Regions from separate parts of the Homo sapiens genome. Here regions 1, 2, 3, 4 and 6 are each linked to region 5. Evidence: fine-mapped expression QTL. A gene starts in region 5. Each other region holds a variant in brackets. All regions are shown on one strand. Distances are from middle to middle.

Region 1 (4,000 bases), 50 kb after region 5:
AGGGAGGAGGGCAAGCAGGGGCTTAGTAGAGCCAGGAAAGAGAAAAATTACAAAGGGTAGTCAATGTACATGTGATTAGGCCAGCTAATCACACATCTGCTAAGTGGCAATTATCGAGGGTAGAATTCTATCCTCCCACAGAGACTGAAAGACAGAGACCCTATCCTCAAATGTTGACAGGAACAAACAAAATTTTTCTGGAAGCCTTGAGTTTCTTAGGCAGACACTTTCAACAGGGAGAGGGTCATCTCAGGGATATGACCTTGAGGTATTGGAAACTTGTTAGTGTTTACTCTTCATGGAATGAGGTTGAGGCCTAGCCAAGAAGGCACAGAGGAGCCTGGCTAGGGTTTGATCACGAAGAGAGTGTTTGTTACTACCTTAAGGGGCCCAAGGTTCTGAAGATGCAAACCAGAACCACCATCCCCTGGACCAACTCTACCTTAGAGTAGTACATTAGGTGTGCAGGCTCATCAGGGAGGGAAAGAGTTGTTCAGGAAATCTACATGATTGGTGTCTCATGTTCCTTGGGTGGGCCCTGAGCAACCACATGAGCACAGAATGGCAGTATCTCTTCTTCTAATGTGTGCCCCTTTTCTCAGATCTCATGCCTTGCTCTGTCTTGCTGTCATGAAAATGGCAAGGCTTAGAACCCTTGGACCCTTCTGCCTAGCTTTTGGTAGAGCCACTGACTCTGGCATGTTCTGGCTCAGTTCTTATTGCAAACTTGGTGACATTCTTTGAAAGCGCCGTTCTTCCCCTCACTAAGAAGGCAAAACCATTCTAGATTCAGATAATTCAGATAATTCTGGATTCCATTCTCAGCTTCACTGTTTAACTGTGTGGCTCTGAACAAGTAATCTCCTATCCAAATTGCTTTTTCACAACCTATAAAATGGGGACGGAATACCTAATGTTGAGTTGAGAAGATGAAATGACACAATGTACTTAGAGGCTTGGGCACATAACATGTGCTTAATTAATATGAAGTACACTCCCCTCTCCTTTCCCTCCCTGTGCATTTTGCTTCACAATGCCAGTGCTAACCTTTAGCCACCTGATCAAACACTTGGAATATGGACGCCAAGCCAGGCCAGAGATTAGCTGAACATTCCCCTTGGACTGCTGACTACCCACTCAGAGCCTCCTAGATCAAGTCTCTATCTTTCAGGCTTAATCTGGTCCTCTTGGCAGATGTCTGCCAAGACCCAATGTGCTTTACAGATGAGGCCTCAGAGGTGAGAAATCCACTTCCCTTTAGCTACATTTATAGGAATTCCATACCAAATTTAACATATTACTAACATTTAACATTCATGGTTAGTTTTCACATTTAAAATGGAGGGAAAAAAGATGAATCACTACTGCATTAGTCATGTTTTTAAAAGGAGTGGTAATACATGACTGTCTTAACTTATTGGAGTTTGTTTCCAAACACACAAAGGTGTTTGGTTGAAAGTTAAATGGTTTTCTATCAAGTTACTGTGTTCAGGAGACTTTTAGAATGAATAGAATAATTTACATTTTTAAAATAGAGTTGACCTAATTCTGGCCTATTTTAATGGTGTGCCCAAGTGCACGTGGACAGAGGTGTGGCATATGTACAGTAGACACAGCTGCAGCAAAGCTGGCAAATGGGAAGCTGGTGGTGCACTACCCTGGTACTTTTAGAGTTTGCAATTTCTAAGGAGTTCACTGTTGTGTTCTGAATGTAAATTTATAATTTTTGTAAAGCTTGTTTCATTTTAAC[T/G]TAAATTTGTAGTTCCATAACTATCTACTGTATAAAATCAGATTTTAAACGCAAATCTTCTACTTTATGAATTTACGAAGTAAATATTTTATAGGTTGGTAAAACTATAGTTATTCTGAAAATGAGAAAAAGAAGATGGATCATTTTATTGGAGTTATCCTCCTTTGTTGGAAAGGTCTGACAAATCATAAAGTCTCATTTAAATACACTTTAAAAAATATGTAGATTTGCCTATACTGTGGATCAAATTGTGATCTTTGGAGCATAGCTACATATGGAAAAGCCTGCTATAAAGTTGTTAGGTTCTGAAAAGTACTAGGAAATAGGATTAATTATAAAGGGAATTATGAGTTCTATTGTTTCTAGTATTTGTTTCTTGTATACTGTTGATTAATTTAAATAAGTATGAGTGATCTCTTGGCACATCTTTGTTTTCAAAGACCTAATTTCTTTTTATTGTAAGTGTTTATTTTAGCAGTATTTGTGTAAATTAAATAGACAGTTGCTATGAACTGAATGGGACCCTCCTCAAAATTTATATTGAAGCCCTAACCCCTTATGTGGAAGTATTTAGAGAAAAGGGCCTATAGGAGAGAATTAGATTTAGATGGAGGTCCTAAAGGTGGGGCTCTCATGATAGGATAAGTGCCCTGATAAGAAGCGGTGCCAGAGAGCTTGTACTCTTGTGCACTCTCTCTCACGCTTGCCTTATCCCCACACCATACATCTAGGACAGGCCAGGTGAGCACACAGTAAGATGGCGGCGGCCTTCTAAAAGCCAGGAACAGAGCTCTCACCAAAACCTGACCATGCGGGCACCCTGATGTCAGACCTTCAGCTTCCAGAACTTGTAAAAAATAAATTTCTGTTGTTTAAGCTACCCAGTCTATGGCATTTTGTTATGGCAGCCTGGGCTAAGACAACAGTATACAAATTTAAATAATATTCTGTGAACCTTGCAATGTTAAATTTTAATCTTTTCACAGGCAGTTATTTTCTATAGACTGTCTATATCAAAACTATATGAAAATTTTAAAAATAGAAGCATTTAATCACTTGCAGTTCAAATCTATACCAATAAAAATAGATAGCAACATTGTTTTTAGGGTTCCTTTTAATGGTTATTTAATCAAATAAACTGTCACCTTTTTAGTGATACAGACTTCTTCGATTGCCAACTATTATACTCCATACATAATATTTTAAAAAGCATTTATGATAATAGAAGCAGTCTATCCCTTTAAAATTGGTACAAAAATTTGGATTAATGAGACTGCTCAACTTTGGAAAAATAGTTATGGCTCATTCTTCCTTTCAGAATCACAACTTAATTCATAGACACAGCACATCATGACCAAACTCTATGCCTTTCCCCACCAACATTCCACCCTTACACTCAGAAAATCAATAGCTCTTTCCTGTGTTCAGATTAATTTATTTCATATAAATTCACCTTTGAAAATATTCAAAGTATCAGTTTTTAAACTTTTTGGACTTGGAAGCACTTTGTACTCTTAAAAATTAATGAGGACATCAAACAGCTTTGTTTATTTGGGCTGTATCTATCAAAGTTTACCATATTAGAAATTAAAACTGAGAAGTTTGAAACATTTATTTGTTCATTTACTCATATTTATATATTGTCAAAGCTCATTTCATATTAACATAAACATATTTTAGGAAAAAATAACTATATATACATATATATATATATATATATATTTTTTTTTTTTTTTTTTTTTTTTTTTTAGGTACAGGGTCTCACTGTGTCACCCAGCCTGGAGTGCAGTGGTGCAGTCATAGCTCACTGCAGCTTTGAACTTCTGGGCTCCAGCAATCTTGCTGCCTCAGCCTCCTAAGCTGGGACTTCAGGTGCATGCCACCAGGCCCAGCTAATTTTTAAAAAATTATTTTGTGTACAGACAGTTTTGCTATGTGGAACTCCTGGGCTCAGGCAATCCTCCTACCTTGGCCTCCTAAAGCACTAGGATTACAGGCATAAGCCACTGTACCCAGCCAAACTATATTTTTTTAAAACAAAAAATAGAAGGAAGGTGTTGTTTTACATCTTTGCAAATCTTATGTGTCTGCTTCTGCACTTGATTTGTTGCTATGTGTTTTTTTGGTTGAAGTATGTGAAGAAAATCCAGCCTCACAGGAATATGTGATTGACAAGGGAGGAGTATTTTAATAATCTTTTCAAATAATTGTGAATATTCTTCTTTGACGCTACACTAAAACTTGACTGAT
Region 2 (4,178 bases), 96 kb after region 5:
TAGATTAGGGGAGAAGGGATTTGAGGAAACTTTTTGAAAACTGAATCCTGTAGGGTAGCAAGAAGGAGCATTTCAGTCCTACTGAAGGAACAGTATGTGCAAAGACTAGGGAGAAAAAGATGTTAGCAGAGTTGGAAACCTGAAAGGCGACTGAAAAAAATGAGCAAGGGACTGAGTGTGCAGTGCCTGGAAACCATGAGAAGGATTTTGGTTTTCATCATATGAGCATTTTAGGAAGATGGTTTGCTTTCCTTGAGAGAAAAGGAATGACATGGGAAGCAGGAGAGCCAGGGTAGAAGGAGAGAGACTAATCAGGAGGCCACTACAGTGGAAATAGGTGGGAGTGAACTTGAACTGAGTGGATGGGGACCAAAATGGAAAAAGTAGATAGATTCAAGGTAGACTTTGTACATAGATGTGGCAGGATTTGTTGATAGAAAGTCTCTAAAGACGGTGAGAGCAATTATATCTACGGATAAAATTCTGTAACTTTATAATGCCGGGACTTTTCAGCGATCCTTGCCTTCCATTAGCTTGTCATTCCTGCCCATTCCCCAAATTTGTGGCTGTTTTCTGAATTTTAAAATATGAGATAAAAAAACTTTAAACTATAAAATAATTGAGCACTGGTCATATTTAGCCCTTCTTCCTCTTTTGGCAGAAGCTTATGCTGATTTCTGTTTACCTTTTTCTGCATAAGGCCGTTAAAAAGAACTAACCTACAGGGCAGAATATCCTGTTGTTGAGAGTCATGCGTAACAAGAAAGTTGGCAGCAGAAACAGCGTGATCAGCTTTTTTTCATTCCCTAAAAGAATGCTTTTGAAAATCATATCATACCTAGTTTCATTTTTACTTCCTTTATTTCATTTTCCAATTGCTGCTTCCTTTTTCGTCTGAGACAGGATCTCACTCTGTCACCCAGGCTGGAGTGTAGTGGCAAGATCTTGGCTCACCGCAAACTCTGCCTCCCTGACTCAAGTGATCCTCCCACCCCAGCCTCCTGAGTAACTGGGACCACAGGCATGTGCCACCATGCCCAGCTAATTTTTGTACTTTTTGTAGAAATGGGGTTTCACCATGTTGCCCAGGCTGGTCTCGAACTCCTGGGCTCAAGCAATCTGCTTGCCTCAGCCTCAAAGTGCTGGGATTACAGATGTGAGCCACTGCGCCCAGCCTCCAATATCTTTTTGTATATTCTTTCCTTTCAAAACTTTTTTTATGTTCTATCACTTATACTTGCATCTTCAGTAGTATCATATTGTCTCCATTGTTTTGATTTATGCTCCACCTCCTCTTGCACAGTCCTTAATAATTATTGTGAAAATATATATGCTTAAGAAAATAATTGTAATGGTAGAGAATGGTGAGAAGTAAAATAAAATTACCTCATTCCTTTGCAATATATTCTTCTCAGAAGTAGCCATGTATAAACTCTGTGTCTGCATAAACTCTATCATAAGTGTTGTTCTGTAACTTTTACACATAAAGTACAATTATTCCATGTCAGTATCTGACAATTTACCTCATTTAAAAAATTGCTACTTAGTATTTTACTGGTTAGTAGGATATTATCCCTTTTTTGTTAACCCCACCGACCAGCCCCCACACACATGCACACACATTCATAAAGTG[T/C]AGAAAGGTAAGCACTAAATTATCAAATGTGGTCCCTTCTGAGGACTAAGATTGGTGCAGGAATTTTTTTTAATTTCATGCACTTTTGATCTTTGGAGTTGTTGTAATGAATAATAAATATTAAATGTATAATTGGAAATTTTTAAAAAGTAACCTTACCCTGGTGTAGAGTTTTACAGTCAAAAAAGCAGTTTTGCATCTTTTATTTCATTTCATTTTAACAAGTTTCCAGGTTACCCGTGAAACACCTCACTCACATTTACAAATGGGAATCGAAAGTTAAAGAGGTTACATCATTAATCCAAAGTTACATGTCAATAAAGGCAAAACCAAAGGTAGGGTACGGATCCTCCCTAGATGATGTAGTTTAATGTGGCCACTGGCTGTTTTTATTACTGGGTCAGATTTTTCCCTTCCTAGCCCATGTGACTTTGTGGGCAGAAGAGATACAGATCTCCTTAGTGACCCTCAATATTTGACGTTTTATCTTGAAACTCAGCAACTACTAACAGGAAAGACCACTTTGAATAAACATGGTGAGACTGAGACACAGTAAGTTATTTCTTGGTGGGAACAAGGTCACTGCTATTTGGCAGAAGTCACCACTCCTCTGGGCCTGGCCCAAACAGGCTGCATCATTGGCTGAAGAAGCATTTCTACACTCAGTATGTATTTATTTGCTGGTTTACCAAATGATTCTTCATCATCACCCCCAGCTTTATGCTATCCTGAACACCTAACCTTTAAAGAGATTCAGATGCAGAATCTGCTATTAATATTTGCTGAAAAACAACCACATTGTTATAAGAGATGATTCTACGTTGTATCGAGTACTGGCAAGATAATAACAAGGCATAAGATTAAGAATGGTCTCCTTGCTTTATCCAAAGCCATGGCTAGAAATATCAATGCTCAATGAACTGACTAAAGAAGCAAGTCCTAAGGGGAGTATCTGAAAATAGAATTAGCCAAATACTCAAATGTCTCTGGCTGAAAAACATCTTGGAACTCTAAATTTCACAACATCCTGCATCTTATCTACCAGGTGGCCTACAATAAATTATTCTCCCCAAGATAAAAGATGGAGAAACCCTCCCTCTCTGAGTCAGCCCCAGCAGCAGCAGCCAGGGCCTATTTTGACAGCAGCGCACTCCCACTGAGTGTTTAGCACACCTCACACTAAGCCTACCCCAAAAGCAAAGCCTTTAGTTGACTTAATTTTGTCCCTTCCTCTTCATTACATACTTATGAAATATCTCTTGTAAATTGCAATGTAAGGACTGTGGAATTGATCATATTATATTCTTATCCAGTGAAAAAGACTGAAATCAGGGCTGGCACAGTGGCTCATGCCTGTAATCCCAGCACTCTGGGAAGCTAAGGCAGGAGAATTGCTTGAGACCAGAAGTTCTGAGACCAGCCTGAGAAACATAGCAAGATCTTATCTCTACCAAAAAAAAAAAAAAAAAAATTATCTGGGTGTGGTGCTGTGCACCTGTAGTACCAGCTACCCTGGAGGCTGTGGTGGGTGGATCACTTGAGCCCAGGAGTTTGAGGTAGCAGTGAGCTATTATTGTGCCACTGTACTCCAGCCTGGGTGGTAGAGCAAGACATGTCTCTAAATAAATAAATACATACATACATAAAATGATTTTTTAAAAGATCCAAATCAAAAAAGGGTATATTCTTTCAAGATGATTTGCCACAAGGACTAGAACATTAAGAAGTTCCAAATGAAAGGAATATCCTACAAGATCCGGCAATTTATTGCCATTTTAAAAATTATGAGAAATAAATCACAGAGAAGAGTATATGAAACATTTATGTACAATTTAATAATTATTACAAAGCAAACATCTATGTAACCACCGAAGAGTGGAAGGAAATGTACATTTCCAGCACCCCAGAAACCCCTGCCTCATACATCCTTTCACACTTCCAACTCTTTCCACCTAGAAGTGAGAAGTGATCATTTCTTTCTTTTTGCTGTTTTACCACTTAAGTGTGCATTCCTAAACTATCCATGCTTAGTTTTGCTGGTTTTTGAACTTTAAATGAATACAATCGTGCTGTAATAATTGTTTTGTGATATTCTTTTTGTTTTTAAGAGATTAATCCACATTATGTCTAGGACAATTTATTTATTTTGATTGCTGTGTGGTATTTTATTGTTCAAATATACTATAATGTAGTCCATTGAACTGCTGATGGACATTTGGGTTGTTCCCAGTTCTGGCTCTTATCAGCACTGCTGGTATGAACATTCATGCACTTGTACTCTGATAAACACGAGCAAGTGTTTCTTCAGAGTGCATTTCTGGGAATAAGTGGTAGCATGAGAGTATGCACATATTCCAGTTTGTTATATCATGTCAAATATAAAGGATTGTATCCATTTATACTACTATAAGAATTCTCATTGCTTCTCACTTCTGCAATATTTGGTATTTCTAGTTATTTACTTTTTGTCAGGGGAATATGTAATGGTATCTCTCATTGTGGTTTCAACTGACATTTCCCTAATCATTGCAGACTTTAGGCATCT
Region 3 (4,178 bases), 100 kb after region 5:
ACTTTTCAGTGACCCTCCTTGTCAAGTTTTGGGCCCTATTTAACTAATGCCCTCAGGGTCACCATCTACTCCTTAATATATTTACTTTCAACCATTCAAGAAATATCCCTCAGTATCTGTGGGGGATTTGTTCCTGGACCCTCTATGGATACCAAATCCATGGATACTCAAGTCCCTTCTATAAAATAGTGTAGCATTTTTATATAACCTATGCACATCCTCCTATGTATTTTAAATCATCTTTAGATTATTCTTAATACCTACTACAGTGAAAATGCTATGTAATAGTTGTTATACTCTATTGTTTAGGGAATAATGACAAGAAAAAAGTTTGTACATGTTCAGTACAGTTGCAACTATCGAAATTTTTTTCCAAATACTTTTGACCTATAGTTAGTTGGTTGAATCCATGGATATGGAGAGCTGATTGTATTGAGAGAGGATACTGTTTGTGGGAATCTTTATAATCCCATCATTCAGAGCTCAGACACTAGAGGCAGTTAACACTGGGTTTATGGCTTGGCCTCTACTAAGGATGTGACTTCAAATGCCTCTCCAAATCTCAGTTTCAGCTTTTGTAAAATGTGGAATAATCATATTATTTACCCAGATGATTTTGTGAGGATTAAATGAGATAATGCCTAGAAAATGCTCAATAAACAAAATTTATTATTATTATAAGGCAGTAGGCTAAAGGGATCAGAGAAAAGGAGAGAAATAAGATGTTACTTCTACTCTCAAAGAATCAGTAGGCAAATACGTAAACAATTAGCCATAATTGGAATAAAAAACTAAACTATAATAAAAGAATAAGCAAAGTGTTTTCAGAATACAGATCTGCCTAGGAATATTCACATAAATTTCATTAAAGAGGAAATATTTTAGCTAAGGCTTGAGAATGAGTTAGATTCCAATAATCTGGGCTGAAAAGTCAAATCTACTGAAAGTCTAACCTCATAAACTTGCTGGCTACCCAGAGCCCCCAGTGAAGGTCCCTTCCATTACATTCCTACTGAACAGTGCTTTCTAAAACATACTAATCTCTCATTACCCCAGTGTCAGGTCTGGGATTTTATTTTACCCTATTTACAAGCTAATAGTCTATTACTGTATCATGAAAATTGGCAGAAGAGATGAAATGTCTAGCCCAGTGACAAAAATTGTATTAATCACAACAGCACAAACAGCATGAGTATCATGTTTGCATTGATTCCCCTTGTCCCTAAGCCCTACAGGGGCAACAGAGATGGCTAAGATGGATATTTGCACACACAGCAGGTTGCATTACTGGAGAGAACAGTGAGCTTGGGGAACTGCCATTTTATAGGAACTAATAATCAAACCTGCTCTTTTTCCAAAAAGGAGACTTTACTTCATCTCTTTAAGTTGCTTGCTGCAAACAGAACTCTAAGACATGGCCTAGGTAAAAAGCAGTCAGAGTTTTGCAGTCTTGGCATATGGCAAGACATGTGAGAGTGTGAGAGACTGAGAAGGACAATCTTCCAGCTGTCACTATTTTCCAAGTCCTATTTCAAATCATACTTCCTCATCAGTGTGCGCCCCAACTGTATCAGTCCACAGTAACTTTCTCCTCTGAATCCTGTGACTTCACCTCTCAAACTTACTATAACACTTGACCATAAACCTTGTATTATGATAAAACTGTATGTTTCCTCTTTCCAGCATGATTTTATAACTTCTGAAGATTTTTTAAAATCTGTTTGTAACTCCCACAAAATAGCGACAAAACTGATAAAAACATGTGAGAAAATTAAATATGTTTTTATTTTAAGAAGAAAAACATTTTTAAGTATTGCAAATATTTCTTGAAATTTTGAGACACACGATATATAACCATAGACAATAAATCTGAAACCAGACGTGGCATTTTGGTAAATACATTATCATTCCTAGACCTCAAAACCATGTTAGAGTGTTCATAAATCCATGTGTTCATAAATCAG[G/T]TGATTGCTAATGTTATTTTTTGGTCTTTTTTGTATGGCATTCCATTTCATAAAGGCAGATTATATATAGCACTATAAAATTATATAAATATATTTCATATTTTTCTTATATATAGTAAAGCAAGAAAATTTAAAAAACAAAAACAGGGTTTTTTTCCATATAGTATTCACCAACTTAAGGGTTATTGATGTTTCCCAGAACACACAGTTTGGAAAATTGTACCTCAGATAATCAGAGGCAGATGGCCACCAACAGTTGTTTAATTTACTTCACGATATTCTTAAATCACATAGTCTAATTCAAAAAAGGCAACTTAAATAAACTCGTATCTGAGATATGGTCAAGTTGTAGGGCAACTTATTTCAATGGCCAAGCAAGTAGATGGATGCATAGGGGATTCCTTAAGACATGGTTTATTTCATGGAGACTAGATCTTCTTGCATCTAGGCGTCTTTAAAGATACTTAAAAGCACTTGAAGAGAGGGCAGTGCACAAAATCAAAAACAGATGTTTTTCCTCTTAAAAATCAATTTCCTACTTAAAAATCAAAGTCCTAACTTCTTTCTCTACTTCCAGCTCTGCTCAATATTTCTTGATGAAATAACTGTTCCTATTCAATTCATATATAATCTAAGAGGACTAACTTTAACAAGTCCACATTCTTTAACTTTTAAGTCTGCTTGCCACTGTTCATACCAACAGAATTCCACAGTCTTTCCAGGCTGCCAAGCACATTTATCCCAGCTAGAAGCTGCCTAACTTTCCCTGCAGATGTATGGTAAAGCTCACTCTTTAAAATTGTCAGTTTTATTTTCTTAAAATCTACACCAGGCCGGGTGCCGTGATTCACACCTGCGATCCCAGCACTTTGGGAGGCCAAGGTGGGTGGATCACAAGGTCAGGAGTTCAAGACCAGCCTGGCCAACATGGTGAAAACCTGTCTCTACTAAAAATACAAAAATCAGCCGGGCATGGTGGCAGGCCCCTATAGTCCCAGCTACATGGGAGGCTGAGGTAGGAGAATCGCTTGAACCCGGGAGGCAGAGGTTGCAGTGAGCCAAGATCAGGCCACTGCACTCCAGCCTGGGTGACAGAGCGAGACTATGTCTCCAAAAAAAAAAAAAAAAAAAAAAAAAAAGGGAAAAAATCTACACCTTTATTCCATATCCTCTATATTTCCCCTCCGATTTGAGATTTAACAATTTAGACTTATTAAAAATAGCGCTTGGTAAATATTATCATTGGCAATGACTAATATTTGGAAAAGGTACTTCTGTTCAAAATTGTTGATTTGAAAGTATACATTTTACCACAATAAAAAAAAAAGTAAAGGGATCTTTTTCAGTGGCATAAAGCAAGCAGAGAACAAGAAGGGGAACAAAAACAAACACAATTTTGGAGAGCTAGAAAGTAGATGGTGGCCGGGCCCCGTGGCTCAGACAAATCCCAGCACTTTGGGAAGCCAAGGTGGGTGGATCGCTTGAACCCAGAAGTTCGAGATTAGCCCAGCCAACATGGTGAAACCCTGCCTTACTAAAACTACAAAAATTAGCCAGGCATGATGGGGCACACCTCTAGTCCCAGCTACGGGGGGGGGGTCCAGGTTGGGAGAATCACCTGAGCCTGAGAAGTTGAGACTGCGGTAGGTTGTGATCTCCCCACTGCACTCCAGCCTGGGCGACGGGAGTGAGACCTGTCTCAAAACAAAAACAAAAACAAAAACAAAAAACAAGCAAACAAAAAACATAGATGGTACCTGATAATTGGTCTAATAGACCCGAGGAAAAAAAATCTGAAACCTAAGCCAGAAGTGGAAAAAAATAAGCAATATGATTTACACCATGGAATCTGTAAAATTCTCAGGAATTAGCAGCACCATTCACCTCTAGATATGGGGCTGGAGGTGGAGTTAAAAGCAGAATTGGTTGAAAACCTTTTTAAGGAAAATTGTCCCTCAGATATCTGTCCCGTTCCATGCAGCCAAGCAACTGCTTCTCCCTACCCTAGCAGAAGATGGGAGCTTTAAGCTCTAGATATAGTTTTTCAAAAATATTTCTGGACTGAGAGATAATAGGTATAACTGAAGGCAGGGACACTATATTGAACAAAAGGAAATTAAGTTAAAATGTACATATTGAAATTTTATTTCCCCAATTCTCTTTCCCACCTGGCTTGCAGAATGCTGAAATTAAGCCTATATTCTCCAGGAAAGG
Region 4 (4,000 bases), 65 kb after region 5:
TGCGGACTCAAATTACAACTGGTTTTATGGTCCAGAAAGCCAATTAGTGTTCCTTGATAAATTTGTCATGCGTAATGGCAGTGGTAACTGGCTAGCTGACCAAATCAGAAGGAACCGTGTGGTGGAAGGTCCAGGAACACCATCCAAAGGGCAGCGCTGGTGCACTCTGCACACAGAATTTCTCTGGTATGACACATTGGGCTAGCTTTAAAGAGAAATGGTACCCAAGGGTACTATTCATGCTATGCACTTGTTTTTTTGCATTTAAAAAGAAAAACTAAAACACTTTTTAAATCTTTTCTCCATGCCACCTGAGTATATGAAGTTTCAATTCAACTCATATCACTGTTTTTGAAACTCTTAGAAACTTTTCTTTTTTAAAAAAAAATTTCAACTTTTAGATACAGGGGTACATGTGCAGTATACCCAGGTAGTGAGCATAGTACCTAATAGGTAGTGTTAGAAACATTTCTTTATGTTTAACATCTAATTACTGTTTTCAGTTTTTGGTTCTCATATTAGAGCTGTCCTACACTTGCACTATTTCATAAATAAGCATGTTTTGATTTTACATCATTTTTTGAAAGCATATAAAACAAAACACAAAATTTAGACTAGGTTATTCTGATAATCACACCAAAAAAAAGGTAGTAAAATATTTTGTTTTGGTAAATGGAGCATTATAATCTTCTAATAGCAAAGCTGTTACTAAATTTTCAAAAGTGTTTAAAAGTGTTTGACAGTATTTGACAGCTTCACTTTGATAATAAAAGGACCGTATAAATTTTTTTGCCTTAATCTTTTAAGCCCAGAAAGAGAAGCTTGGGTCTCCTTTTTAAAGTATTGCCAAATATGTTGTTGGCATCCAATAAGTTAAAATCAAAATTACAGGGAACTGATTAATCATTAATCCCTGATGTCTTTTCAAGCTGTTGAAATTTGCATTCAACTCCAAAACAAGCTTTCTTGTGGTTTGCTTCTCTTTATCCTTTTTTTTCAAAATACAAAAAAATTAAGGAGGAAAAAATATTAGTAAAATGGTGTCTATAGTTTAACCAACAATTTAAGATTATTTTCATAGATAAACTAAACATATTAAGATGCAACCATCCTTGAGTTCTCTCAGGAGTATGACATAATTACTTAATAGTGTAACCCATAAATAAGTTACTCATAAATATTCAATGAAGAGAGTTCTATAAAGCTAACTACAGGATTAATAGGTCAGATTAATGCTAAGTCTAACTTAAAAATCTGCCTTTATAGCAATATGCAAACTGACCAAAAACTGAGAGTAAGATGGCCAATTCAGCTTACATCTACACTTTTTAAATCACATTAATTAAGCCAACATTATACTAGACCTAAGTAGAGATATAATTTCTGATGTCTTGAAACTGAGACTCTAGAACAACAGATGAAACAGTCAATATCAAACACCAATAAGATTAACTCTAGGTGATTGATTTACTTTAGGGAAAAGTACATAGTGCTAATAATAAACATTTATCATAAATGAAAATAAGAAGTCATTTATTGTCCAAGAAGCATGGCATCATCTGCAGATTAAAACAAAACCAAACCTTTGGACCTGGCTGGTCAGTAGTAGGCACAATTATAAATCCCTCAATATAAGACAGTTTGCTGAAACTTCATCCATTTATATTCTGAGATGTGGTGTTGGTGATACATTTTATCTAATATGTGAAGTTCTCCTCTATTTCAGTTTATTTTTTCAAGGAAAAAAATCTTGAGGGAGAACTCTTTTCAATACCAAACATTCAATAATATCAGTTACTGCAGAACTATACTTTATTACAACTCAAGGCTTGTTAGAGTCCAGATTCTAACATGGCATTTCTAGAAGAGGAGCCCCTCAACCAGAAATTTGGATGAAGTGCTTAAATCCATGAGGCCCAGTAGTTTGAATGGTCACTCTGACATCATCAAGTGAAGATAGTCCATGTAGAGATTAGAGCAGAAATCATTTCGGGCCCAAACCCAAGGATCACAAATGATAAAGAAATATTCCTCTTCCAGTCACCAAGGGTTTCCCTTTGTGCATACTGGTTGTCCTTGGATATTTTTAGAATTGTCCCTAATATACTCTGCACTGCCAGTGCTCTGGGTAGCATTTGTGTGTCGCATCTTCCACATTACCATGTTATGTGTTATTTTCACTGCCATCAGAAAACCATTTAATTTTTCAAAATTAATTTCAGGTATGATGGCAGCTTGAAATCGG[T/C]TCCTCCTCCAGACTTTGGCACCCCTACACTGCATTATTTTGAAGACTGGGGTGTCGTGACTTATGGAAGTGCACTACCTGCAGAAATCAATAGATCTTTCCTTTCCTTCAAGTCTGGAAAACTGGGGGGACGTGCAATATATGACATTGTCCACAGAAACAAATACAAAGATTGGATCAAAGGATGGAGAAATTTTAATGCAGGGCATGAACATCCTGATCAAAACTCATTTACTTTTGCTCCCAATGGTGTGCCTTTCATTACTGAGGCTCTGTACGGGCCAAAGTACACCTTCTTCAACAATGTTTTGATGTTTTCCCCAGCTGTGTCAAAGAGCTGCTTTTCTCCCTGGGTGGGTCAGGTCACAGAAGACTGCTCATCAAAATGGTCTAAATACAAGCATGACCTGGCAGCTAGTTGTCAGGGGAGGGTGGTTGCAGCAGAGGAGAAAAATGGGGTGGTTTTCATCCGAGGAGAAGGTGTGGGAGCTTATAACCCCCAGCTCAACCTGAAGAATGTTCAGAGGAATCTCATCCTCCTACATCCACAGCTGCTTCTCCTTGTAGACCAAATACACCTGGGAGAGGAGAGTCCCTTGGAGACAGCAGCGAGCTTCTTCCATAATGTGGATGTTCCTTTTGAGGAGACTGTGGTAGATGGTGTCCATGGGGCTTTCATCAGGCAGAGAGATGGTCTCTATAAAATGTACTGGATGGACGATACTGGCTACAGCGAGAAAGCAACCTTTGCCTCAGTGACATATCCTCGGGGCTATCCCTACAATGGGACAAACTATGTGAATGTCACCATGCACCTCCGAAGTCCCATCACCAGGGCAGCTTACCTCTTCATAGGGCCATCTATAGATGTTCAGAGCTTCACTGTCCACGGAGACTCTCAGCAACTGGATGTGTTCATAGCCACCAGCAAACATGCCTACGCCACATACCTGTGGACAGGTGAGGCCACAGGACAGTCTGCCTTTGCACAGGTCATTGCTGATCGTCACAAAATTCTGTTTGACCGGAATTCAGCCATCAAGAGCAGCATTGTCCCTGAGGTGAAGGACTATGCTGCTATTGTGGAACAGAACTTGCAGCATTTTAAACCAGTGTTTCAGCTGCTGGAGAAGCAGATACTGTCCCGAGTCCGGAACACAGCTAGCTTTAGGAAGACTGCTGAACGCCTGCTGAGATTTTCAGATAAGAGACAGACTGAGGAGGCCATTGACAGGATTTTTGCCATATCACAGCAACAGCAGCAGCAAAGCAAGTCAAAGAAAAACCGAAGGGCAGGCAAACGCTATAAATTTGTGGATGCTGTCCCTGATATTTTTGCACAGATTGAAGTCAATGAGAAAAAGATTAGACAGAAAGCTCAGATTTTGGCACAGAAAGAACTACCCATAGATGAAGATGAAGAAATGAAAGACCTTTTAGATTTTGCAGATGTAACATACGAGAAACATAAAAATGGGGGCTTGATTAAAGGCCGGTTTGGACAGGCACGGATGGTGACAACTACACACAGCAGGGCCCCATCACTGTCTGCTTCCTATACCAGGTTGTTCCTGATTCTGAACATTGCTATTTTCTTTGTCATGTTGGCAATGCAACTGACTTATTTCCAGAGGGCCCAGAGCCTACATGGCCAAAGATGTCTTTATGCAGTTCTTCTCATAGATAGCTGTATTTTATTATGGTTGTACTCTTCTTGTTCCCAATCACAGTGTTAGCACTGAAGCTATAAATTAC
Region 5 (4,165 bases):
ACTTAAATGATGGCATGGCATACAGACCGGATTTACAGAGGTCATGAAATTGAGAGGTGGAATTACTCAGTTATATCAATGATACCCAATATGTCAACAAGCTAAGAGGCCTAATTTAACACAATAAAATTCAGTAGAATCACAGGTAAAGTGCTGAACACTGCATTGAGTGTAGTTGTTTAGTTCAGTGATTCTCCAACTAAACTTTTAACACTTTAAGGTTTTATTTGGTAGATTGTAATATGGAGTCAGCTGGGTAATATTGCTGCCATGGAAGCTCCAAGGATATACTTAGGGAAATACAGTAATTACAACAAAGCCATTAAACATCTTTCTAGTTTGTCACTTGGGTGAAACCTTGAATTCAATTCTTGGCATCAGGGTTTGAGAGAGATGTTGGCAAAGTAAATCTCCTCCTGAGAGCTTTCCTAATGGATGAAGAAAAGCTGATGGAGTTAATATGTACCCAGGTAAATTGAAGTATTCTCCTGTGGAATCAAGGCTAGGTGTATCCTGTAGATTCCAGAGAGCAGAATAGCAGATCTGTTGAGACTTACTGTAATGGGGTGGGCGGGGGCGGGGGGACGGGGGGGGCTTTGCACAAAGTGAATGTCATCCAGAGGCCAATTCGCAGGTCACTCAAAAGCAAAATTGTGGGGGGTGTGAGGGTAAAGGGGAGCAAATGACAGTCAGTACTACCTCCTTTGAAGAATTCTCAATCCTGGTTGTACATTGTGATCATCTAGGAAGAGATTTTAAAATGCAGATGCTGATGCTTAGACCCTAACCTCAGAGATTCTGATTTGTTGTTCTTGCGTGGGGGTCCCCATTGGAAAGAATTTATTATAGCTCCCCTGCTGATTCTAAAGTTCTAGGTTGGAGAATCACTGAACTAGACTACTACTTGCTGAGAGGTTACGTAAATTAAACCAGATGTTTTTTCTAAAGTCTCTTTCAAATTTGAGAAGATAAATGGAAATTAACACTTACGGATTACATAATACAGCTAGACACTTTCACAATTTATTCTAATAATTGAATTAGTATATGTAAATCTCTTAGCACAGTGACCGTCTGATATGGTGTAGTAAACTCTCAATAAACATTAGCTATTTTTATTATATCCTCTCCATAACTGTTCAAACAAGGTATTATATTGTTACACTATAGATGAGGAAACTGAGGTTCTGATGTTAGTTTTCCAAGGCCCACAGTAGTAAAAGCAAAGTTTGGATTTGAACCAAAGATTAGTTCCAGTTTCCAGAGCCCTCTTCTCTCCTCGACAGGCCTTCCCTAAAGCATCAAGAAGTTTATGCAAATTAGTGGTTCACCTGAGTGAACATTTAAAAAATTTAATAGTACCACTTCCTCTTGACCTGTTTGTAAGGAGTTCCTCTTAAATGCAATTTCTGAAAAAGAGAAGCATAAACTGAGACATCCACATTTTTTCCTTATTTGGCCAAATAGAAGTGAGAACCTCTGAGGATAGAGGAATTGGATGGAGGTGCCCTTCAGAACTCATGGAGAAAAGCACTGCTCCCAGTAAAATATCTCTCATTCTAATGAATGGGTAAGTATCCTACAAATCTTTCACTTCTGTACAATCTAGGTCTGGTAGGTTACTTGCACACACTGGGTGGAGGTGGAAGGGGCAAAGTATTCCTGAGGTGATGGCCCTGATCCTACCTCACATCTCCTTGGGGCCTGGTTGGACCTGGCTGAGCGTGTTTGAGCAGTGGCTGATTTTTGGAAAACAGGAGGACTCTTCTCCAGGAGGCTGTGACTACCAAGGTTGCAAATGCTCCACCTGAACTTGGGTGCATGAGGGATCTCTCTCTCTCACACACACACACCCCCCCACCGCGTAAGATAAATTTCTGTTTGTGAGCTGCCTACATTAAATGCTTTGCTCCTGACCTTCTGTGATTAAAATCTGTTCCGTTTGCAGGGTTCGGTGCGCTTGGATTTAGTGTATTTTGTTGGTACAGTAAAAAAGAGAACTGCTTCTCTATAGGTGACCCCCGCCCCAAAGTCCCCCCTCCCACTAACTTCTCTTTGAGAAGAGAGTAAAACCGAATTCGAGAGAAAAGAGGCAGTAACTATTCGGGAGGAGGCAGACTGGAGTGGGCACCAGTCCCGGTAGTAAGAGTCTTAACGTCTTCCTCGCTTTCCTCTCGCAGAGTAGTATGGAAGCATCAGCTCCTCCCCCTGGGCCTCCAAAAGTTACCTTTCCTTTGGGTGTGATTCTCGAACCCGAAGCGTTTGAGTCCTAAGAAACTAGAACAAGTTAGAGCCAAAGAGGCCTGGCGGGCGGGGGTGCGGGTGGAGTCCGGGCCGGGTGGCGTGGAAGGCCGAGCACAGCTGCGAGCGGCGAGTCCCGGGAGAGGAGGAGCGGGAGAAAGCGGGGCGGGCCTGCGGTCGGGGTTCGGCCGGGGGAGGGGGTCCCCGTTTCCCTCTCCTCATCCTCGTCTCCTCTGGCTCTGGTGACGTTGCGGTTTCCTCCCCCCTCCAGCGGAGCCTCAGCGCCCGCCGCGTCCCTCCCTCCGCCCCTTTCGCCCACACCTACCCGCCCCCGCCGGCCCGGCTCTCAGTAGCGTCGCCCGAGGCTGCAGCAGCGCATCCCGGGGCATGGCGCGGCGGGGGCGCGGAGGGCTCGGTTCGGAGGGGGCCGGGAGCCCGGGCGCCCTGGAGTGAGGAGGACCGGGAGCTGGCTCTGGAGGCTGCGGAGGCGACGCCGGAGAGAACGAAGCCTCGGCTGGGAGCGGTAAGTGGAGGGGCGCGCAAGGGACGAGCTGGGGCGCGCGGCGCAACTTTCTTCGGGAGTTTCGGGCGGGTAGCCTTCGGGGCTGTCCCGGCGCGGGCGGGAGACGGAGAGCCACGTCCCCGGCTGAGAGCGGAGCGCCGCGGGTTGCGCGCCCGGGCCCGGCTCGGCTGGACTCCGAGAGAGCGCCTGACGCGTGAAGCCTGAGCCACGGGCTTCCCCGGCGGCGGAGCAGCCTCGAGGGGCAGCTTTTCGATCCTCCCCACCCCCTTGAACGCCGAGCACCGAGCCGGGAACACGATGAGAACCTGGAGATCGCATTCCGTGCGTCGGATCTGGCCGGCCCAGCCGCGATTTCCTCGACGGTCCTTGGGGCCTCGGCTTCACTCTGCGGGGTTGGGTGGCACACCCTCGCGTCCTCCTTTCCCTCCGTACCCCAGCCATTTGGGGGCAGGGGAGGTGGCGGCGGCTTGTGTGCAGATCCTGGCGCTGGCAACCCTACTTTGCGGCTGCAGAAGCCGAGGAAGAGCTCCCCAAGCCTCTCCCAGACGCTGGATTCCAGCGCTCCTGGGCTCCGCCGGCACTCGGAGAAATTGTTAGTAAACCTCATCCCCGAGGCAGTCCCGGGGAGGGGAGGAGGCGGGGGCTTGACTCACAGACTGGGAAGCTCTGAAAGCGATGCCACATGGGCTCAAGATCTGTCGGGGCTGGAATCTGAGCTAAGTTTGTGACCTGAGAACTTTTTCGTTTATATCGCTCCTTTAAAGCAGCAGCCTCCTCTTAAGCCGGCTGGCATTCAGATGGAAACCGAAGCCTTTGGTTAAAATCAGGAGGTGAACCTCACTTACCTGAAATTCTTTAGGTCAGGCAATGACGCTTTTAGTTCTAGGAATCTTCGTGTAATAAAGTTCTTTTTAAAAATTTTTTCGTTGGTCATGGTTTAGAAAGTCATGGTTTAGCACTGTTAATTAAATGCATGAAAGATCTCACTTATACATATTTTTAGTATTTTTCACATTATAGAATTTAAACTTTAAGTAATTCCCTCAAGTTTTTAAAAAATTTCTCGGCCGGACGCAGTGGCTCACGCCTGTAATCCCAGTACTTTGGGAGGCCGAGGCAGGCGGATCACGAGGTCAGGAGATCGAGACCATCCTGGCTAACACGGTGAAACCCCGTCTCTACTAAAAATACAAAAAATTAGCCGGGCGTGGTGGCGGGCGCCTGTAGTCCCAGCTACTCGGGAGGCTGAGGCAGGAGAATGGCGTGAACCCAGGAGGCGGAGCTTGCAGTGAGCCGAGATTGCGCCACTGCTCTCCAGCCTGGGCGACAGGCTCAAAACAAAACAAAACAAAATTCTCAATGATAATCTCTATGTGAAATAGTGATAAACAATATTGTATA
Region 6 (4,000 bases), 22 kb after region 5:
GATAACAGGCATGAGCCACTGTGCCTGGCCCATAATTCCTGGATTTAATACTTTTTCAATACATAGTAGAATTTATTGGTATTTATAAGAAATTCTTATCCCCAACTTGGGTAAGGAATTGATATTCCAGTACTGGATCACAATGCACTGCAAAGCATAACAGGCAAAAATTACTACTTTTTAAGTGATTCAGCATAAAAAATACACTTAATTATGCTCAATATTAACTTCTGAAAATAATATTAAAATAAAAAATTCTGAAAATAATTTAGAATAGTGTATTCTAAAACCATCATTAAGAAAATCAACTAAAATTGTAATAAAGAAATACTAATCAGAAGATCTTCAATTGTTAGACTGCTAGATAAGCTAGAATTTATTTATAGCTTATCTTAGAAAGTGTAACCGTTTCATTTTCTCTTTTGGCCTTCTGTAAGCAAAATTAGATGCCCCAGTACTCTCATAAGTGACGTTTGTACACTCGTATCTCTACCCTCGTTTCCCTTTGCCTCCATGAAAATAATACAGATTTTACTTTTTTTCTACATATGAAATGATAACCAATCTCTGAAAAGCTGGATACTAATGGTTTGTAGTTTAGTAGTAACATGCACCAGGCTAACCTCTACCACTAAATTATGAATTTAGTTAGATAGCCACTACATTTCTCACTCAGGTGGTCTCTGGTGGATGGGGGAGGAACCCTTCAGACTTGACATCAGAAAATGTTTGTGAGCACTTTAAACATATTTTACATGAATTATTCTAATATAAGGAAGTTATACAATTATCATCACTGGTATAACAAAGAAAGTGGGCTTCACATTATATAATGAAAAAGTGTGCTGTCTTCATGAAAACCTTTCAGGGGACAATGATAGAAATGTTCTTTGACTGTACAGAGCTGCAGTTAATAAAAGCCTGACCTAAAGTTTTTTTTTAATGTTGTATTTTAAGGTGGTGAACACCGTTATTATACATGGTGTGGTTTTGCTGTGTGGCCTCAGGTTTCTAATTACTCCTTCAGCAGCGTGTGCAAATTCTTGGAGGTTCCATATACTATCATTTCATATTGTGGATTTTTGTTTGGAAATTACCTTTTAGGGAGCAAAAGTATTCTTGATTTTGATTAAGAGCTCTCGGTTTTGGCCAGGCACTGTGGCTCACGCCTGTAATCCCAGCACTTAGGGAGGCTGAGGCGGGCGGATCACGAGGTCAGGAGATCGAGACCATCCTGGCTAACATGGTGAAACCCCGTCTCTACTAAAAATACAAAAAATTAGCTGGGCGTGGTGGCGGGTGCCTGTAGTCCCACTGCTTGGGAGGCTGAGGCAGGAGAATGGCATGAACCTAGGAGGTGGAGCTTGCAGTGAGCCAAGATTGCTCCACTGCACTCCAGCCTGGGCAACAGAGCGAGACTCCGTCTTAAAAAAAAAAAAAAAAAAAAGGAGCTCTCAGTTTTAAGATTTTCCTTTTTGTCTGAGTCCACGGGCTTTACACATCAGGGAGTATAATTTTAGGGAACGATTCTGCAGTACCAAAGCCATAGGTTTTCTTAGGATTTGACATATTTAAGAATAAGGTTAGATTTATTTCACTACAAAAATTTACCAAGGACATGTAAGGTTTTACTTTGGTATTGAGGAAACATTCTTCAAAAAATTATTTTAATTATGCATTTAATAAAACTGAAATAGAAAAGTGAGGAGACCTTTTAAAATATATGCATTTTATTACTATAGTTAAAATATGTAGCAACAGTGAAATAGTATGTGAGACCACAGCAAGGTGTTCCCCAAAGCACTTGGAAGGTTTCTCTGAGAGTTAAATCCTAAAATGGATCAGAGAAGGCAATGCAGCCCTGTCTAGTATATCCTAATGCTCTCAGGCAATCAGGGTTTTCCTAAAACTTCAATGGAGGCCTGAAGGAGGAGGGAACTTGGACTTAAATGGAAGCATGAGCAAGCGAGTCACAGTGCCTAACCTCGGCAACATCTGTCTGTTTTCCACGGGAGAGGGTGCAACGTCAGGAACATTCATTTGTCGGGTCTGCCTGTTCAATCTTGCCATGGATATGGGCACACTGGTTCTAGTGTGGGGGATTATTCCTAATCATGTAACTAACTATGGGGCCCATCCATTAAGTTGAGCAAACTGGAGCAGCTGCTCTTAGGCTGAGCTTGGCGGGTGTGGTGGCAGGAGCTATAGGGGATGTACATTTCACTCTTGTTTTCTAAATATGATTACAACTCAGTTTTTAAAATTTTGTCTTTAATGATACCCCCAAGGACATCTGTGACAGCTGCTGGCAATTTCAGCAGCCTCCTTCAAATGAAGTTATGGTAGCGATCTTAACTGGTCAAGTTGCCCCAAGTTCAGGGCCTTTCCCATTGCCTTTGTTCTGATTCTTTACTTGTTCACCAGACAGTTATCTAATAATTCACTTCCTGTGTTGGTTTCCTGTGAAGTCAGAAAA[T/A]ATTTCCCAATCTGCTTGACGGTAAACGAATATGCTGACATTCTGGTTTTTCATATGTGAGAGGTAGGGAAGCCTAACATTAAGTAGCATCTCATCTCCAGGATGATCAGCTGAGATACTGATGGCAGTGATGGAGCCAGGACCAGACCCTGTACTGAGGTTAACCTATCCGCCTTGCAGTGGCAGCAGGTGTCCCCTAAATTTTAATGTACTCCTTCCGTAATATAAATGTGTTACTAAGAAACAGCTTTCCAGCCAGGGACTGTGTTTCCCAGTCGCTGTTAGATCGGCAGGCCTTTCTCCTGACAGAATAAAGGAGAAAAAAGAAGTGGTCGCCTTTTGTATATGAAGAATTAAATTACTGACCCTAGGAAGAAAATTTAGTTAATAGCTCATTTAATCTATTATTCTTTTCTTTGGGGCAAAACCTCTAACAAACACTTGAAAAATTTAAAGGGTCGTATACTTTCCTTTCCAGTGAGTGATGAGCTTACTATGAGTGATGTGTTGAAGAGTGAGAAGCATTGTGTTCCAATTTCAACTAAGTCTCTAATAAGCAGTATGATCTGGCCCTAGTCAGTTAACATCTATAGTTCTTATATTTTTACCTGTAAAGTATGAAGATTTAGTTTCTTTCAAATAAAATATTTTATCAATAGGTTAGTATAATCTTGCAGGTCTGAAACATCTTCCTTTTTATAAATATTATTGAGCTCTTCATGTCATGTTCTATGCTAAGTGCATCACACATGTCTAATCACCCCATGAAGCATATTTCATTTTGTGGATGACAGAAGGGAGGTTTTGAGAGTGGACGTCAGTTGATCAAAGCTAGGAGGCAGCAGAGCTGAGATTTATGCTCTTGTCTGCCCAACTCCATGCCCCATACTGTTAATCATTATGTTGTGTTCCTCAAATTTGGCACATATTATAAGAGGGTTTTTTAATCCATCTTAGTTTGGGGCATGTTTTACTCTCTACAGGGTGATTTCTTTCTCCCATCCTTATACTTTCTCTGTTTTCTGAAGCCTGTGGAATTGAAAGAACTTTTGTACTACCATTTGTTTCATTCTATAAACAGTCCCAGATCATTTGAAACCCAAATCTTTTTTGAAACTTGATGTACTAGTTTAGTGTTCAGTTTTTTCTTCTCAGCATATTCTTCTGTGCTTTCTTTGTGTAAGGATGGCAAAAAAATGGAACTTTTAATGTTATTGAACATTCTCACAAATTAGTTTGGTTAAAGGAAAGAATCTTGGCTTAGGATTTAGGAGGTGCAAGTTCTAGTTCTTTCTCTGAAATTTATTGTGGAACAAATAATACTATTTTGCTATATTAAGTTATTGAAGAGTAAAAGATCAAATATGTGAAAAGCATTTAGGATCACAGAAACGAAGTTTTTCTGTGTGACTGCTGAATCATAATAGCTGCAGTGGATTGTTGGAACCAGAATTACAGCAAAATAATTTGGGGCCTATCTTTGCTTTATAAAGATCTGCTTAAGGTAATTGTAATTCATAATTC

The links.
Region 1: its variant is fine-mapped to the expression of DSE in lymphoblastoid cells (TwinsUK, PIP 0.95).
Region 2: its variant is fine-mapped to the expression of DSE in whole blood (TOPMed, PIP above 0.99).
Region 3: its variant is fine-mapped to the expression of DSE in whole blood (TOPMed, PIP 0.94).
Region 4: its variant is fine-mapped to the expression of DSE in whole blood (TOPMed, PIP above 0.99).
Region 6: its variant is fine-mapped to the expression of DSE in lymphoblastoid cells (GTEx, PIP above 0.99). The same link has a PIP of 0.9 or more in T cells.

The regions. Positions count from the first base shown.
Region 1 is chr6:116,417,993-116,421,992 of GRCh38, forward strand. All of the region lies in intron 2 of DSE (dermatan sulfate epimerase), which reads left to right. Among named protein-coding and RNA genes, the nearest start is that of CALHM6, 41 kb to the right of the region's middle. The variant T/G (reference allele first, on the strand shown) is at 1,751.
Region 2 is chr6:116,464,582-116,468,759 of GRCh38, forward strand. No RefSeq gene overlaps it. Among named protein-coding and RNA genes, the nearest start is that of CALHM6-AS1, 3.0 kb to the left of the region's middle. The variant T/C (reference allele first, on the strand shown) is at 1,634.
Region 3 is chr6:116,470,233-116,474,410 of GRCh38, forward strand. No RefSeq gene overlaps it. Among named protein-coding and RNA genes, the nearest start is that of CALHM6-AS1, 8.6 kb to the left of the region's middle. The variant G/T (reference allele first, on the strand shown) is at 1,965.
Region 4 is chr6:116,433,365-116,437,364 of GRCh38, forward strand. DSE (dermatan sulfate epimerase) reads left to right here. Exons shown (of 6, transcript NM_013352.4): 5 at 1-186; 6 at 2,223-4,000. The coding sequence ends at 3,981. Among named protein-coding and RNA genes, the nearest start is that of CALHM6, 26 kb to the right of the region's middle. The variant T/C (reference allele first, on the strand shown) is at 2,246.
Region 5 is chr6:116,368,358-116,372,522 of GRCh38, forward strand. It overlaps DSE (dermatan sulfate epimerase), which reads left to right and starts at 2,590. Exons shown (of 6, transcript NM_013352.4): 1 at 2,590-2,764. LOC100287467 (a long non-coding RNA gene) reads right to left here and starts at 3,362. Exons shown (of 1, transcript NR_148944.1): 1 at 1-3,362. RefSeq lists enhancers at 1,397-1,446, 2,961-3,461 and silencers at 2,377-2,906, 2,669-2,963.
Region 6 is chr6:116,390,338-116,394,337 of GRCh38, forward strand. All of the region lies in intron 1 of DSE (dermatan sulfate epimerase), which reads left to right. Among named protein-coding and RNA genes, the nearest start is that of DSE, 21 kb to the left of the region's middle. RefSeq lists an enhancer at 333-492. The variant T/A (reference allele first, on the strand shown) is at 2,477.